Linked DNA regions of Homo sapiens: region 1 is linked to region 2. A link means that fine-mapping ties the variant in region 2 to the expression of a gene that starts in the linked region. Tissue or cell type: minor salivary gland. Region 2 holds a variant in brackets; the other region holds the start of a gene. All regions are shown on one strand. Distances are between the middles of the regions.

What was found. PIP is the estimated chance that this variant, and not a neighbour inherited with it, causes the effect.
Region 1: it holds the start of WFDC3, and the variant in region 2 is fine-mapped to the expression of WFDC3 in minor salivary gland (GTEx, PIP above 0.99).

The regions. Positions count from the first base shown.
Region 1 is chr20:45,787,155-45,795,259 of GRCh38, forward strand. It overlaps WFDC3 (WAP four-disulfide core domain 3), which reads right to left and starts at 4,729. Exons shown (of 7, transcript NM_080614.2): 1 at 4,678-4,729; 2 at 2,740-2,828; 3 at 1,777-1,905; 4 at 682-828. The coding sequence starts at 2,821. DNTTIP1 (deoxynucleotidyltransferase terminal interacting protein 1) reads left to right here and starts at 4,800. Exons shown (of 13, transcript NM_052951.3): 1 at 4,800-4,955; 2 at 5,523-5,593; 3 at 6,767-6,863. The coding sequence starts at 4,851. RefSeq lists silencers at 4,883-5,152, 5,363-5,502.
Region 2 is chr20:45,423,298-45,431,402 of GRCh38, forward strand. It overlaps PIGT (phosphatidylinositol glycan anchor biosynthesis class T), which reads left to right. Exons shown (of 12, transcript NM_015937.6): 10 at 919-1,084; 11 at 1,199-1,282; 12 at 2,277-2,944. The coding sequence ends at 2,529. It overlaps MIR6812 (microRNA 6812), which reads left to right and starts at 2,213; the gene lies at 2,213-2,276. It overlaps LOC105372631 (a long non-coding RNA gene), which reads left to right and starts at 4,125. Exons shown (of 4, transcript NR_159957.1): 1 at 4,125-4,248; 2 at 6,148-6,373. The variant G/T (reference allele first, on the strand shown) is at 4,949.

The DNA.
Region 1 (8,105 bases), 360 kb after region 2:
ACCTTCCATAGGCATCAAGATTCTTTTTTTTTTTTCTGTCTCTGCAGATTCTCAGGATAAGATTTTTTAACAGAGAATATTGCAACTGATTATGGGAACTGGGAATTACCCAGTGGTTTTCTTTTTTCTTTTTTTTTTTTTTTTTTTTTTTTTTGAGACAGAGTCTCGCTCTGTCACCCAGGCTGGAGTGCAGTGGCATAATCTCGGCCCACTGCAAGCTCCGCCTTCTGGGTTCACGCCATTCTCCTGCTTCAGCCTCCTAAGTAGCTGGGACTACAGGCACCCGCCACCACGCCCGGCTACTTTTTTTGTATTTTTAGTAGAGACGGAGTTTCGCCGTGTTAGCCAGGATGGTCTCGATCTCCTGACCTCGTGATCCGCCCGCCTTGGCCTCCCAAAGTGCTGGGATTCCAGGCATGAGCCACCACACCTGGCTACTCAACCGTTTTCAAAGCAGTCTGCAAATGAGGGTAAGTTGAGGCTGCCCTTCTGGCACCCTCCCTCTGCCTGCCCAGGCTACATACCACAAATGATTATGGCTTGTGCACCCTTTGTATATCTTTTTTTTTTAAGGTCTTAGAATATAGCAGCAAAGTAAAACCAACAAGCTGATATGTGCATATTTGAGAAATAAACAAGCAGACCAAACAGACCATGAGGTGTGGGGACAGCGTTTCTTACCCAGCTTCTGTTTAGAGATTGGGACTACACAGCTCTTGTTGCAGCCAAGCGTGCAGCATTTCTTTACACCTGGACATGTCTCATCAGTGATGCACCTTTTCAAACAGGATTGTTTCCGAATAACCCTAGGGCAATCTCTTTTCCTCCCTGTAGCAAAAAGGGAGACAGCAAAGAAAAGAGAAAATAGGCCGAGCGCCATGGCTCACACCTGTAATCCCAGCACTTTGGGAGGCCAAGGCGGGTGGATCACCTGAGGTAGGGAGTTCGAGAACAGCCTGGCCAACATGGAGAAACCCCATCTCTACTAAAAATACAAAATTAGTCGGGGGTGGTGGCACATGCCTGTAAATCCCAGCTACTTGGGAGGCTGAGGCAGGAGAATCACTTGAACCCGGGAGGCAGAGGTTGCGGTGAGCCGAGATCACGCCACTGCATTCTAGTCTGAGCAACAAGAGCGAAACTCCGTCTCAAAAAAAAAAGAGAGAGAGAGAGAGAAAATAGTGCCTGGCAACACCCACGGGCACAGCAGAAGGGAAAAACAGAAAAAGGAAGTCCTGAGATTTATTTAAGCCTCTCAACCCTGGTGCTAAGACAAAGAGACAATAATAACAACAATAGTAATAGCAAATATTTACTGTAACATTTACTGACGTTTACCTTGTGCCATGAACATCTTATTTGATCCTCACAATTATCCCCATTTTATAGATGAGGAAACTGAGGCTAAAAGCTTAAGATTTATAAAGAGCTAAGGCTTAAGGCTTAAAAAGGTCTGCTTGGCTCTAGGGTCTACTCTCTTAATCATTATCTTACACAGCCTTCCCTTTACAACTCTTCCCTCCAGCCTTCACAGGAACTTTGAGTCCAAAGTAAAAGACATAGATAATCAATGGTGCGCTCTTTCCTGATGGAAGGCAAACAACTGGGGGCACTGAATAATTAAAGGAGGAGGGACCCTAAAAGAGTAAAGAAGAAGTACTCTAGGCAAGGGAGACTTCCAGAGGCAACCTAGAAGGTGGGAAGCTCTCTACTTCCATCTATCCCAGAGGCAATGTCAGAGAGTATGCCCAGATTTTGCCCCTCATGCCAACATACCCTTAGGAATGTCTCGGCAGATCCGACCACAGCCTGTGGTGCAGCACTTCTGTTCAGCCGGACACAATTCATCACCCTGGCACAGCTCTTTGCATGGGTTCTTATGGGGAGGGCATTCTCCCTCTTTTGCTGCAAAAGATACTATTTGAGTTTGGGGTAACTAGCCAGGCCTCAGAAATGGGGAATGGACCTTCAGCCCCTCCAGGCATCTCTATCCAAAATATTTCTGCACCACTGCACTCTAGCCTGGGTGACAGAATGAGACCCTGTCTCTTAAAAAAAAAAAAAAATTCTGGCTGGGCACGATAGCTCATGCCTGTAATCCCAGCACTTTGGGAGGCCGAGGCGGGCGGATCATGAGGTCAGGAGATCGAGATCATCCTGGCTAACACAGTGAAACCCCATCTCTACTAAAAATACAAAAAATTAGCTGGGCGTGGCGGCGGGCACCTGTAGTCCCAGCTACTCGGGAGGCTGAGGCAGGAGAATGGCGTGAACCTGGGAGGTGGAGTTTGCAGTGAGCTGAGATCACGCCACTGCACTCCAGCCTGGGTGACAGAGTGAGACTCCATCTCAAAAAAAAAAAAAAAATTCTGCAACCACCTTCCCCTCCTCATACACAAATACTAACATATATCCACCACTGCTAAAGGAGCAGCCATCCTGCAGATAACGAGAGAGAAAGGGTGGGATGATCCTGTTCTCATTTAATGAGTTCTAGGGAAAAGCTAGAACCTCTAGTAAGCCCAACTGGAAGTCCTATCTCCTTGTCCAGAGAGGGTAAAGAAAGCCAGGAAGAATGACCCAGGCCATCCTGAGAATCTATTCATCCAGTCCTGTCCTATAGAGATGATCATCTCCACTTACAAGCAACCTTGCTCTGGGAGAAGGCAGGGGATGAGTTCTCCTCTCCTCTAGTCACTTTCTGTTACTGTTGGCCAGGGATCCCAAATGATAGCTCACCATGTTCTCCTGCAGTTATCCAGGATTCCAGAGACCCAAGAGCAAGAAGTGCCTTCAGAAGAAAGAGGCAGCTTAACATCATGATGATGCTGAGAGTTGGGACAAGAGCTCAGTTCAGGCTAGAGGTGTACACCTTGCCCAGAGTATCAGCTGAGGTATGAGCAGGACTAGGGATGGCCCCAAACCCAGTCCCAAAACCTTCCCTTTCACAATACTCCCCAAGAATATCTTCTCCTGACAAGAAGAAGAGGGATTGGCTGCTGGAGTGTGGGAAAATTCCTGGCACTACCAAAGGGGACCTGTGATGGGAGGATCAAATTCTGTAAGCAATATACACAATATTCCTGGATGATGAGAAACCTAGTGGGTGGCTGGAAAAATGGAGGGGTGGCCATTGGAAAAAGAATCAAAGAGAGCCCTAAAGGGCATTGGAAGGACATGGCTTTAGCCCAAATAACAGAGGGAGGGATTCACGACACTACTTAATGGCCAAAGCTAATAACATAACCAAGCATAATAAAATTGTGGCTCCTGTTCATCCTAGCAACCAAGAAAATACAGAATGGAACAGACCACTCAGAAACTATCAAATAGGCCAAGGCGGGCAGATCACCTGAGGTCAGGAGTTTGAGACCAGCCTGGCCAACATGGCGAAACCCTGTCTCTACTAAAAATACAAAAATCAGCTGGGCATGCTGGTGCATGCCTGTAATCCCAGCTACGTGGGAGGCTGAGGCAGGAGAATAGCTTGAACCCAGGAGGCAGAGGTTGCAGTGAGTGGAGATCATGCCACTGCACTCCAGCTTGGGTAACAGAGTGAGACTCTGTCTCAAAAAAAAAAAAAAGAGAGAAAAGAAACTATCAAAAACCTACAGAAAAGCAGTAGTTGAGTTTGTTAAGAACTAATGAAAAGCACCAAACACCTACATCTTTGTCCCTCTAACCCACACAGGCCATTCTTGGACTGTATGAAGTCTAGCTGGCAGAACCCAAGAGAAGTTGCTATGTATGACTCAAATAGTCTGCCCACATATACCTCCTTTATTTCTTTTTTCTCCATTTCTTTTTTTCTTTATCTGTCCTGGTCATGCCTTTGGTTAGCTGTGATACCTAATGGTGTCCACTGGCACTGCTTAGTCCTATGGGCAGGTACAAGGTAAAACCTCCTTAATAGGATCAAAAAGTTTGGAGCCAGGAAGTCGCCCTTATGGTTAGAAGGCTGATGTTGGCTCATGGAGATAATTAACATTTGATGATGACCTCATATGTGCCTAATATGCTTTTTTTTTTTTTTTTTTTTTTTTTTTTGAGACAGAGTCTCCCTCTGTCCCCCAGGCTGGAATGCAGTGGCGCGATCTCGGCATAATTAACATTTGATGATGACCTAACATGTGCCTAATGTGCTTTTTTTTTTTTTTTTTTTGAGACAGTCTCCCTCTGTCGCCCAGGCTGGAGTGCAGTGGCGTGATCTCGGCTCACTGCAACCTCCGCCTCCTGGGTTCAAGAGACTCTCCTGCCTCAGCCTCCCGAGTAGCTGGGATTACAGGTGCCCACCACCACGCCCGGCTAATTTTTATATTTTTAGTAGAGACGGGGTTTCGCCATGTTGGCCAGGCTGGTCTCGAACTCCTGATGGCAAGTGATCCTCCCGCCTCGGCCTCCCAAAGTGCTGGGATTACAGGCGTGAGCCACCGCCCCTGGCCGAGCATATTAAAATCTAGTTTTCAAAAACTGAACTGCAGGCGCCGCTGTACCAAACGCTTCCCTCTGCTCCCCAACCCCAGCCTACAGAAAACTGGTCCCTTCCTCCTACCCCGCAGTCATCCCCAGGCCTTGGCCCAGCGGGAAACATCCCTTGACTGAACCGCCACTGAACACCCACACTGCACAATCGAGGCGCAGCCCTCCCGAGAGGAAGCCCCAACGACCTCCACCTACAAGGCCTCTAAGTGTAACTGTCCTGGGCGAGGCGCGGCGGTTCGGTTCCCATGGTAACCCCGCAGCTCCAGCGTCGCGCTTCCGGGCGGACGAGCAGCGCGCTCCAGTGACGTCACGGCGCCACTTTCCGGCCGGTGACAGAGTCCAGCGGAGTTGTGGGGGCCGGGGGCGCCATGGGAGCCACTGGCGACGCCGAGCAGCCGCGGGGACCTAGCGGGGCCGAGAGGGGCGGCTTGGAGCTGGGGGATGCGGGCGCAGCGGGGCAGCTGGTTCTTACGGTGAGGGCGCCCCCGGTGAGGTCTGGGCTCAGGCCGGGCACGGCCTCGGGGCTCCTGGGACCCTGGCCCGCGGGCGAGAGAACGCGGAGGCTGGAGCTGCAGAGGGGGTTGGCGTTTTCGCAGCCCGACGACCTGGATTTAAATTCTGGTGCCGCCCTCCTAGCTAGGTGACGTGGGCCATCTCTGTCAACCCCCTGAGTCCCAGGATCCTCTTCTATAAAATGGAAATGATTAGTACCTGTCTCATAAAACTTGTTGTGGGATGGGAAGATAAAGGCGGGTACAACGCCCCGGACATCACCTGACACAGAGTTGACCCTCGGTAAATACTGCTTCCCTTCCTCCTGCCGTGCCAGAAGGCAGGGTCGGGACTTTTAAGGCAGGAAACTTCCTCAGTTCCTCTTTTGTGGAGGAGGCCTTACAACTATCGTCCCACCCCAAGGCGGGAGAGATGGTGACGGATCTGAGAAGCAGGGATGTCCAGGTTTAACTTCATACCCACCCTCCACCTCCACCCCACCCCAGTGTCACAGGCCGCAGTGACATTTGTTCCGTTGGTCCCCACAGAACCCTTGGAACATAATGATAAAGCACCGGCAGGTGCAGCGGAGGGGCCGCCGCTCACAGATGACAACAAGGTAAGGCTGGCCCTGCATGGGGCTTATATCCCAGCCACTGGCTTGCATGGCAGATTTGGGATCCCCAGTGCACAAGGCTATGGAGATCTACAGCCGGTAGAAAGAGCACAGGACTGAGGAAGAGGAGACTCCGATTCTGTAACTCTGTGTGATCTTGAACTAGTCAAGTCACTTCCTTCTCTGAACTCACGTACAAAATGGGGAAGGGCACAGGAGATGGGTTGTGGAATAAACAATACCTAAGATCCCTCACATTCACTGGCTCTGTGGTTGAGGGCTCTAAAGAGGTCAGTTAGCATGGAGTTTAAGAGAACAGGCTCTGGAGTCAGACAACTGTGTTCTCATCAACAGACTCTGATGAGCCCGTTTTCTCAACTATAAAGAGGGATTAATAGTATGCATGTCAGGGAAGGGAGAGAGCACAAGGTGGGCCTTTGGGATGCTGATAGTGGTGAAATGGATGTTCACTATAATTACTCATTAAAGTGTATAGACTTTTCTGTATAAGTATTATATTTCATAAAAACACTTTGGGCCGGGCGCGGTGGCTCACGCCTGTAATCCCAGCACTTTGGGAGGCTGAGGTGGGTGGATCACCTGAGGTCGGGACTTCCAGAACAGCCTGACCAACATGGAGAAACCCCGTCTCTACTAAAAATAACAAAAAATTGGCCGGGCGCGGTGGCTCACGCCTGTAATCCCAGCACTTTGGGAGTCTGAGGCGGGCAGATCACCTGAGGTTGGGAGTTCGAGACCAGCCTGACCAAAATGGAGAAACCCGGTCTCTACTAAAAATACAAAAATTAGCCGGGCGTGGTGGTGCACACCTGTAATCCCAGCTACTAAGGAGGCTGAGGCAGGAGAATTGCTTGAACCCAGGAGGCAGAGGTTGCAGTGAGCCAAAACCACGCCACTGCACTCCAGCCTGGGCAACAGAGTGAGACTCCGTCTCAAAAAAAAAAACTTTGAAAATAATATGCACTTCATAGAGTTATTATGAGAAAGAAATAAAGTCATGCCTCTGTGATTTGCACAAAATCTGAGCATGTAGCTAGTTTTCAATAAAAGCTGTCTAGTATTGTTAAGGAATTCTATGTCCATAATTAACTGGGGAGGCTGGGAAAGAATATGTTTGGGACATGCCCCCTCACCCTGTCTCCCTCCTGAATGCAGTTTCACAGATCCTGCCATCTCCATGGATCTCCTCCGAGCTGTCCTGCAGCCCAGCATCAACGAGGAGATCCAGACTGTCTTCAACAAGTACATGAAGGTGAGAGGGACACAGGATAAAAAATAACAGGAGAAAGACTCATGAGGAGCCCAGTCCTTGCCTGCATCACCAGTCTGTCTCTTTCCTACATACAGATATCTAAAGTTTTCCTTTCTTGTTGTTTTTGTTTTGTTTTGTTTTGTGTTTTTGAGACAGATTCTCACTCTGTCACCCAGGCTGGAGTGCAGTGGCACAATATCGATTCACCGCAACCTCCACTTCCCAGGTTCCAGCGATTCTCATGCCTCAGCCTCCCTAGTGGCTGGGATTACAGGTGCCCACCACCTTGCAGGGCTAATTTTTGTATTTTTAGTAGAGACGGGGTTTCACTGTTGGCCAGGCTGGTCTCGAACTCCTGACCTCAAATGATTTGCCTGCCTTGGCCTCCCAAAGTGCTGGGATTATAGGTGTGAGCCAGGGCACCTGGTCAGTTTTCAAATTTTTAATCCCCCAAGAATTTTATTCCCTCCTTGAGGGTAATTCAGATACCTTTTTTTTTTAAAATCTGCCCTTGTCACGCACGTGGTTTTTTTTGCTGACCTCTTATAAGGATGAAGTGACTTAAATGTACTGTGCTGAGCACTGTGCTCCAGACATAACAAGTGTCCAATAAGTATTCTTATTAGTTGTTTAATAATATAACCATTATTGGGGCCATGCACAGTGGCTCACACCTGCAACCCCAGCACTTTGGGAGGCCGAGGCAGGATCACTTGAGGCCAGGAGTTTGAGAACAGCCTGGGCAACACAGTGGGACCTCATCTCTACTAAAAAAAAAAAAAAATTTTTTTTTTTTTTTTTGAGACAGAGTCTCACTCTGTCGCCAGGCTGGAGTGCAGTGGCACGGTCTTGGCTCACTGCAACCTCCGCCTCCTGGGTTCAAGCAGTTCTCTGCCCCAGCCTCCCAAGTAGCTGGGATTACAGGCATCCGCCACCACGCCCAGCTAATTTTTTGTATTTTTAGTAGAGACGGGGTTTCACCGTGTTAGCCAGGATGGTCTCGATCTCCTGACCTCGTGATCCGCCCACCTCGGCCTCGCAAAGTGCTGGGATTACAGGTGTGAGCCACCGCGCCCGTCCTGATTTTTTGCACTATTTACACCTCAATCTGTTGGGCACCCCCACGATTATATCCGTAAGAGGGGGAATAAAGGGAGGAGGTCAAGCCTGAAATGTGAATCTAAATCTGGCTGATCCCAAAGCCCTGCTCATAATCACTTTTCCCTTCTGTATGAAGCTAGG
Region 2 (8,105 bases):
TTGTGATCTGCCCGCCTTGGCCTCCCAAAGTGCTGGGATTAAAATAAATTGTTTTTAATTAGCTGGGGGTGGTGTTGCACGCCTGTAGTCCCAGCTACTCAAGAGGCTGAGGTGGGAGGATCACTTGAACCCAGGAGGTCAAGGCTATAGTGAGCCATGATCATACTATTGCACTTCAGCATGGGCGACAGTGTGAGACCCTGTCACGAAAAAAAAAAAAGTTTCTTTTTCTTTAAAATTACTAGACTATTCTTAGAGCAGTTTTAGGTTTACAGAAAAACTGAGCACAAAGCACAGAGTTCCCATATACTCCCTGTCTCCACACCCAGAATGTCCCTTATTATAAATGTCTTGTCTTTGGTGTGGTACTCTTCAGTCTCTCTTCATCTGTAGCAGTGCCCATGCCTTTTTTTTTTTTTTTTAATGTCATTTATTTGTTGAAGAAACTGGGTCATTTGTTGTGTAGAATGTTCCACATTCTGGGTTTGTCCTTGTGCTAGTGTTTAACACACCCCTCCTCTCCTATATTTCTTGTGTGTTGGTGGTTAGATTTAGAAACCTGATTAGATTCATGTCCCACATTTTTGGCAAGAAAAATTCCCAGGTGGTTCTGTGAACTTCTTCTTGCGTCACATCAGGCACTTGGTGTCTGGTGCCCCAGTTGTAGTGATGTGAAGATTGATTAGCCATCTGCAGCACTCCTAACAACCTCTCTTGATCGCATCCTGGGATCACTGCCCTGGAAACATCCTCTCCCTTTTCTTAGCCCCTGCTTTCTTCCCTTGCCTGCCTGGCTTCTATGCTCCCAAGCCCATCTTCTAGGCACCCAGATTGAGGCTCCATGGCAAGCAGCAGGGACAGGGGCAGCAGGTAGCCTGACCCCAGGAAAGAGATGTGGGTGACCTTGCATGTCTCCAGGTTACATCCACTACCAGCCTGCCCAGGACCGGCTGCAACCCCACCTCCTGGAGATGCTGATTCAGCTGCCGGCCAACTCAGTCACCAAGGTTTCCATCCAGTTTGAGCGGGCGCTGCTGAAGTGGACCGAGTACACGCCAGATCCTAACCATGGCTTCTATGTCAGGTGGGCTCCACCCCCACAGGCCACCTCTCATCCCCCTGACCTACCCTTTCTGCTGCTTACCCCTTGATAGGGCAGCCAGATGGGAACACGGGCCATCTCTCTGCTTCTCTGTAGCCCATCTGTCCTCAGCGCCCTTGTGCCCAGCATGGTAGCAGCCAAGCCAGTGGACTGGGAAGAGAGTCCCCTCTTCAACAGCCTGTAAGTGTGACCACACTCACTGATAACACATCCTCAGCTGCCTGCTGGGCCTTAACACAGGTGACCAGGCTCCTGCAGGGGAGTTCAGGGTAGATGTTACATCTTCCAAAGAGATGTGTAGATTTAATTCAATCCTAATAAAAATCCTGGCAGTCTGTGGAATTTGTGAAGACTTTATAAAATGATTTTAAAGTGCTTCTAGAAGAATACTTTTACTTACAGCCTACATTTACTTCTTGATGCTCTTAAATATTTAATCAAGCACTTATCAAATGCCAAGTGCTTCTGAGAGCACTGAGTGTGCAAGATTAAACAAAACAGACTTGGCCCTGGCCTCCCTTTGCTTACAGTCTAGAAGGAAGATTCTGGTCTAGAGAGTAATGGGGTTAGAGGTTGGGTAGGAATTGATTTACTGGGTTATCTAGGAAGGCTTCATTTAGGAGGTGGCATTTAGGCTGAAACCAGGCTAAGAAAGAAGCAACCAAGCAAAGGCGGGGCCCCTTTCCTCCACCTCAACACCAGGCGTCTCTCTTTCTTTCCTTTCTCTCTCTTTCTTTCTTTCTCTTTCTTTCTTTCTTTCTTTCTTTCTTTCTTTCTTTCTTTCTTTCTTTCTTTCTTTCTTTCTTTCTCTTTCTTTCTTTCTTATTTATTTTTTATTTTACTTTAAGTTCTGGGATACATGTGCAGAACATACAGGTTTGTTACATAGGTATATATGTGCCACGGTGGTTTGCCGTACCCATCAACCCATCATCTAGGTTTTAAGCCCCGCATGCATTAGGTATTTGTCCTAATGCTCTCCCTCCCCTTGCCCCCCGCCCGCCGCTCCCCTTTATCAGGTTTAGAGATTGAGCTATGCCTTCTGTTGAAAGGTTTTGAGCCTAAGAGAACATTGGAAACACTGTGTTGCATTGCCCAATACTGCCGGAATGAGGATGGGGTGAGATGGGGAGGAGCAGCCAGTCCTGTCTCACCGCTCTTCCCCTGACCCCAGGTTCCCAGTCTCTGATGGCTCTAACTACTTTGTGCGGCTCTACACGGAGCCGCTGCTGGTGAACCTGCCGACACCGGACTTCAGCATGCCCTACAACGTGATCTGCCTCACGTGCACTGTGGTGGCCGTGTGCTATGGCTCCTTCTACAATCTCCTCACCCGAACCTTCCACATCGAGGAGCCCCGCACAGGTGGCCTGGCCAAGCGGCTGGCCAACCTTATCCGGCGCGCCCGAGGTGTCCCCCCACTCTGATTCTTGCCCTTTCCAGCAGCTGCAGCTGCCGTTTCTCTCTGGGGAGGGGAGCCCAAGGGCTGTTTCTGCCACTTGCTCTCCTCAGAGTTGGCTTTTGAACCAAAGTGCCCTGGACCAGGTCAGGGCCTACAGCTGTGTTGTCCAGTACAGGAGCCACGAGCCAAATGTGGCATTTGAATTTGAATTAACTTAGAAATTCATTTCCTCACCTGTAGTGGCCACCTCTATATTGAGGTGCTCAATAAGCAAAAGTGGTCGGTGGCTGCTGTATTGGACAGCACAGAAAAAGATTTCCATCACCACAGAAAGGTCGGCTGGCAGCACTGGCCAAGGTGATGGGGTGTGCTACACAGTGTATGTCACTGTGTAGTGGATGGAGTTTACTGTTTGTGGAATAAAAACGGCTGTTTCCGTGGTTCTTTGCCTCTTGTCCTTGAGTCCTGGGAAGAGCTGGGGACTGGGGATTGTTTGCTGAGTGCCTGAACAGGACCTCCTACCCTATGCCTGCAACCCCCTCCACAAAAAACAAAAAACCCTACCTCCTCCCACCTGGCCGGAAATTTCTTCTCCTGATCTGCTCCCCCTGTCCTCCCCATCCCCATCTGATTGTGATTCCCAGAACTCCCCGGGTTGTTTGGGAGTGTTTCTGAAAGCATAATCCATGGCCATGGAAATGAATCATCCTACTTCTTGGGGGCATTGAGAGTCAGTCCACATCAGCAAGGGTAGAGTGGAGAGGTGGGAGGGCTCTGGGTGGTGGGTCTCTAACTGTAGTGTGCATCAGAGTCACTGGGGGCACTTGTGAAAATAATGTATGTTCCTGGGGTCCAGATCCTACTAATTCAGTTGGTCTGGGTGTGGCCCAGACTTTGACTTTTTAGCAGGCTTCTCAGGAGCTCCTGCTGTGCTCTGTCCTCAGACCACCCCCAGGCTTTGAAGCCAGGCTCATTGGATTGAAGCCCGCCCCGCCCACCTCCCTTGCTGGTTACATAACCCTGGATTTCTGTAAAACAAGCCTTTAGGCGGTTGCCTCCCACTGCCCTCATCTTCTGTCTTTTCCTCTGGCACACTTGGCATCAACTGTGTGTTATTTGCAGTTCCCCCCACCTCCTACCCCACTCAGTTCTCCCATCATAGTGGTTTGGCCTAGAATGCCCTATTCCACCAACCATGCACACCTCTCAACTGCCTGGTTCCCTCATAAAACCAGATGAGGCTGGCCGGGCACGGTGTCTCATGCCTGTAATCCCAGCACTTTGGGAAGCCAAGGTGGGCAGATCACAAGGTCAAGAGATCGAGACCATCCTGGCCAACATGGTGAAACCCCGTCTCTACTAAAAATACAAAAAAAAATTAGCTGGGCATAGTGGCGCGCGCCTGTAGTCCCAGCTACTCGGTAGGCTGAGGCAGGAGAATCGCTTGAACCTGGGAGGCAGAGGTTGCAGTGAGCCAAGATTGCGCCACTGTACTCCAGCCTGGTGACAGAGTGAGACTCTGTCTCAAACACACACACACACACACACACCCCAGATGAGAAGTTGCTGCCTCCGGGAAGTTTCCCTTGACGTGTCCGTGCCCCACGCCTTTGCTTCCAGATTGCCTTGGACTTAACACGTGTTCCTTATCAGCTGGCTGCTGTCCTTTGACTTCCACCAGATGGTGTGCTTCCTGGAGGCACAGGTTCTGTCTTTCATTAAGACCTGACCCATCTCAGGACATGTAAGTGCTCAATCAGCAAACGCTAAATGTATTAACTGGGTATGGGCTATTCTGGCTTGAGATCTGGGATCCAAGATAGGGATGGGCAAGGGGCACTCTGGAAGCTCCACATGTGTGAGTGCAGCAGTCTTAACACAGTGGTACAGGTGTCTCTGTAGCCAGCATAGATGGGCTGTGTAGGTTCCTTGAAGGGTTTTAGGAGCCCTCAGCACATGCGGGTGGTATGTGTGCATATGTAGGAAGGAAAGGCGGTGAGCTAGTCTAGACCATGGGCAAAGGCAATTTGTTCAAGGTGCTTTTACTTGAGTTTACTTCAAAAGCAGTAAAGGAGCAGACTGTAAATGAGACAGGAACGCAGGTGAGTGGATACACAAAGCTAAGTGGTCTGTGTAGTGTGCCTAGTGTGGGATGGAGCATGCATAGCATGGGGTGTCTGCCAAGTCAGAAGAGCACAGAGCTGTGGCCTGGCTCTCTTTTATACCCGCAGCCCTGTCAGTACCTAGAAACGACCTCCACTACCATGCCACATGTAACCTACGCTCTGGCAACACCCACATATTTCTAGATCAGACCTCCTCCCTGGATCTTGGATTCATTTACCCAACTGCCTACTTGCTTTCTCCATTTGGATGTCTAAAGACATCTCAAATTGAATATCTCCAAAACCGAGCTTCTGATGTGCTCCACCCCACCCCAAACA[G/T]GCCCAACCATAGTCACCTCATCTCTGTAAAAGGTAATTCGTGTCTTTCCAGGCACTCAGGCCAAATACCTTTGAGTCATCCTTGTCTCTCTCTCATCCTGTTTGCACCCTACCTTCAAAATAAATCCAGAATCCCACCCCTTTTCACCACCTCCACTATTATCAGTGAGGTTTTCCCTGGCCATACCCTATTTCAAATTGCTATCCTAGCACGCTACATTCACCTGGGGAACTGAAAAAATCCTGATGCCCAGGCTTTACCCAAACCAGTTAAATCAGAATTTAATGTGGGACTCACAGAGTCTCCAAGTGACACCAATGTGTAGCCAAGCTTAAGAACTTGGTCTTATTTTTAAAGTAGTATGAAAACTTACTGTCTCTCCTAAGCATTCTAACAATGGATACTTTTCAGAATAAGATTGTGTAAAACAGAGAACTCACTTTTAACTTTATAACAATTTATGTATTGTTTGTCTTTTTAAAACAAAAGTATATGTTGAGTTTATAATAAAAGTAAAAATTTGGGCCGGGCGTCGTGGCTCACACCACTCCCAGCACTTTGGGAAGCCGAGGTGGGTGGATCATTTGAGGTCAGGAGTTCGAGACCAGCCTAGCCAACATGGTGAAACCCCGCTTCTACTAAAAATACAAAAATTAGCCAGGCGTGGTGGCGGGTGCCTATAGTCCCAGCTACTCGGGAGGCTGAGGCAGGAGAATCACTTGAACCCAGGAAGTGGAGGTTGCAGTGAGCCGAGATCAGGCCACTGCACTCCAGCCTGGGCGACAGAGTGAGACTCCATCTTGAATAATAATAATAATAAAATAATAATTTGATGAAGACTTAATTAAATCAAATAGGCATCTGGGAGGTCTGGCCCCAGGTCTTCCCCCAGACTGAAGGGTGACCACAGGTGAGCCCTTTCAATATCTGGGCCTTGGACTCCCGCTGAGGTGAAAGTGACCGGGTAGCCTGTTGGAGCCAGCCCTGTCCCATAGGCTATGGGTCTCAGGGTCCTCTTTCCCAATAGCACTTCAGCTCACTTGAGGTCTTTTCTGAGCTGGTCATGCCCACCAGGCAGATGGCAAGGCAGGGCACAGAAGCTGCTGAGCTCCATGGTGCCAAGGGCTGAGCTCCATGAGCCAGGGCTGGGAGGCTGGAACTTATACCTGCAGAAAAAGAAGAGTCCCTGTTTCCACAGGACAAAGGAAATATCTTGTTTTTGATTTCTTGGAAGAGGAAGCACTCTGGGCAAGAGGTATGAGCCGGGATGAAGTGGACTCCTTGTCTGGAGGTGGTGCTACACACCTTGGAGGGGCTCCTGGGAGCTACTGAGAATGTCCCCTAAGTCAGTATTCCTGCCTCAGCTGAAATGCCAGTCTTCAGCCTCATCTACTGCACACTTGAGTCCATGAGATTTTAGAGTGGTAAGTGACCTTTGGGGTCTCAGTTTTCCTATCTGTAAAGGGAGTGGGCTGGACAATGAACAGCTGTTCTCCATTCTTTTGTTATTGGTTCCCATCCAGAGCCTCCCAGCTAGTTGTCTCAACATCCCAGGGGAGAAAGCATAGCTCTTTGTCCATTGGTTTATTTATTCAATTTAGGAATAATGAGTGTATTGTTTTATATGAATAACCATACTTATTTAAAAGATCAAACTAAACTAAATAGTACAAACAAGCGAAATCTCTCCCCAAAGTCTACTATGGTGCTGTGCAACAGAAATATAATACAAGCCACAAATCGAATTTTCAATTTCCTAGTAGCTTTTTTAAAAAGTAAAAAGAGGGGCCAGGCACAGTGGCTCAGCCTGTAATCCCAGCACTTTGGGAGGCTGAGGTGGGCAGGATCACCTGAGCTCGGGAAGTTGAGGCTAATAGTGGGCTGAGATTGTGCCACTGCACTCCAGCCTGGGTGACAGGGAAGGAGACCCTGTCTCAAAAAAAAAAAAAAAAGAAAGGAAAAACAGGTAAAATTAATTTGATGATAGTTTATTTGAGTACAGTATATATATCATTTCAATATATAATTAATATGAAATAAAAACTAATGCAATATTTTACTTTTCTTTATATTAAGTCTTTGAAATCTGATGTGTACTTTAAACATTTATAGCATATAACAACTAATATTAGCCATAACTCATGTGCTCAATAGTTGCATGTGGTCAGTGGCTACCATATTGGACATTGATGCTCTACCATATAAAGCAACTATCAGTAACTTCAGGATAACCTCATCAACATTTTGTTAGATTGATTAACAAAAATAATTCTACAAAAATGAAGAGTTTATGGATATTGTTTTCCCTGAATTTTTGCATATTTTCTTAATACCTGAAGGACAATTTTATGGGGTAATATTTTAAAAAATAATTTGACTTTTTTTTTCCTCTTTCTAGGCTATTGAGATTTATTTATTTATTTATTTATTTAAGATGGAGTCTCTGTCGCCCAGGCTGGAGTGCAGTGGTGCAATCTTGGCTCACTGCAACCTCTGCCTCCTGGGTTCAAGTGATTCTCTCACCTCAGCCTCCCGAGTAGCTGGGATGACAGGCACGCACCACCATGCCTGGCTAATTTTTGTATTTTTAGTAGAGGCGGGGTTTCACCACGTTAACCAGGCTGGTCTCAAACTCCTGACCTCAAGTGATTTACCCACCTCAGCCAACCAAAGTGCTGACATTATAGGTGTGAGCCACCGCACCTGGCCCAGGCTATTGGTACTTACTATCCCCAACTTTTATTCTATGCTAGTAATTTGATTTGTAGCTCTGACTTGTTTCTTCCTTGAGATTTTCAATTTATTTGCAGTTTTTTTAGTGGTGTTACCTAGATCTTCAATTTATTTCTTTAACACTCATTTTTAAGGGTCTTTTAAATTTTTATTTATTTTAAAATATTTATTTATTTATTTATTTATTTTTAGAAATGAAATCTTGTTATGTTGTCCAGGGTGGTCTTCAACACCTAGCCTCAAGCAATCCTCCCACCTTGGCCTCCCAAAGCACTGGGATTACAGGTGTGAACACTGAACCACTGAACCCAGCCTAATGTCTTATTTTATTAAAGTTTTTGTTTTTTAAGCTGAAAGCCCTCCTATAAATTTTTCCTTTTATCAGATTTTCTGCTGAATTCAGTTATCTGTGTCTGTTTCTTT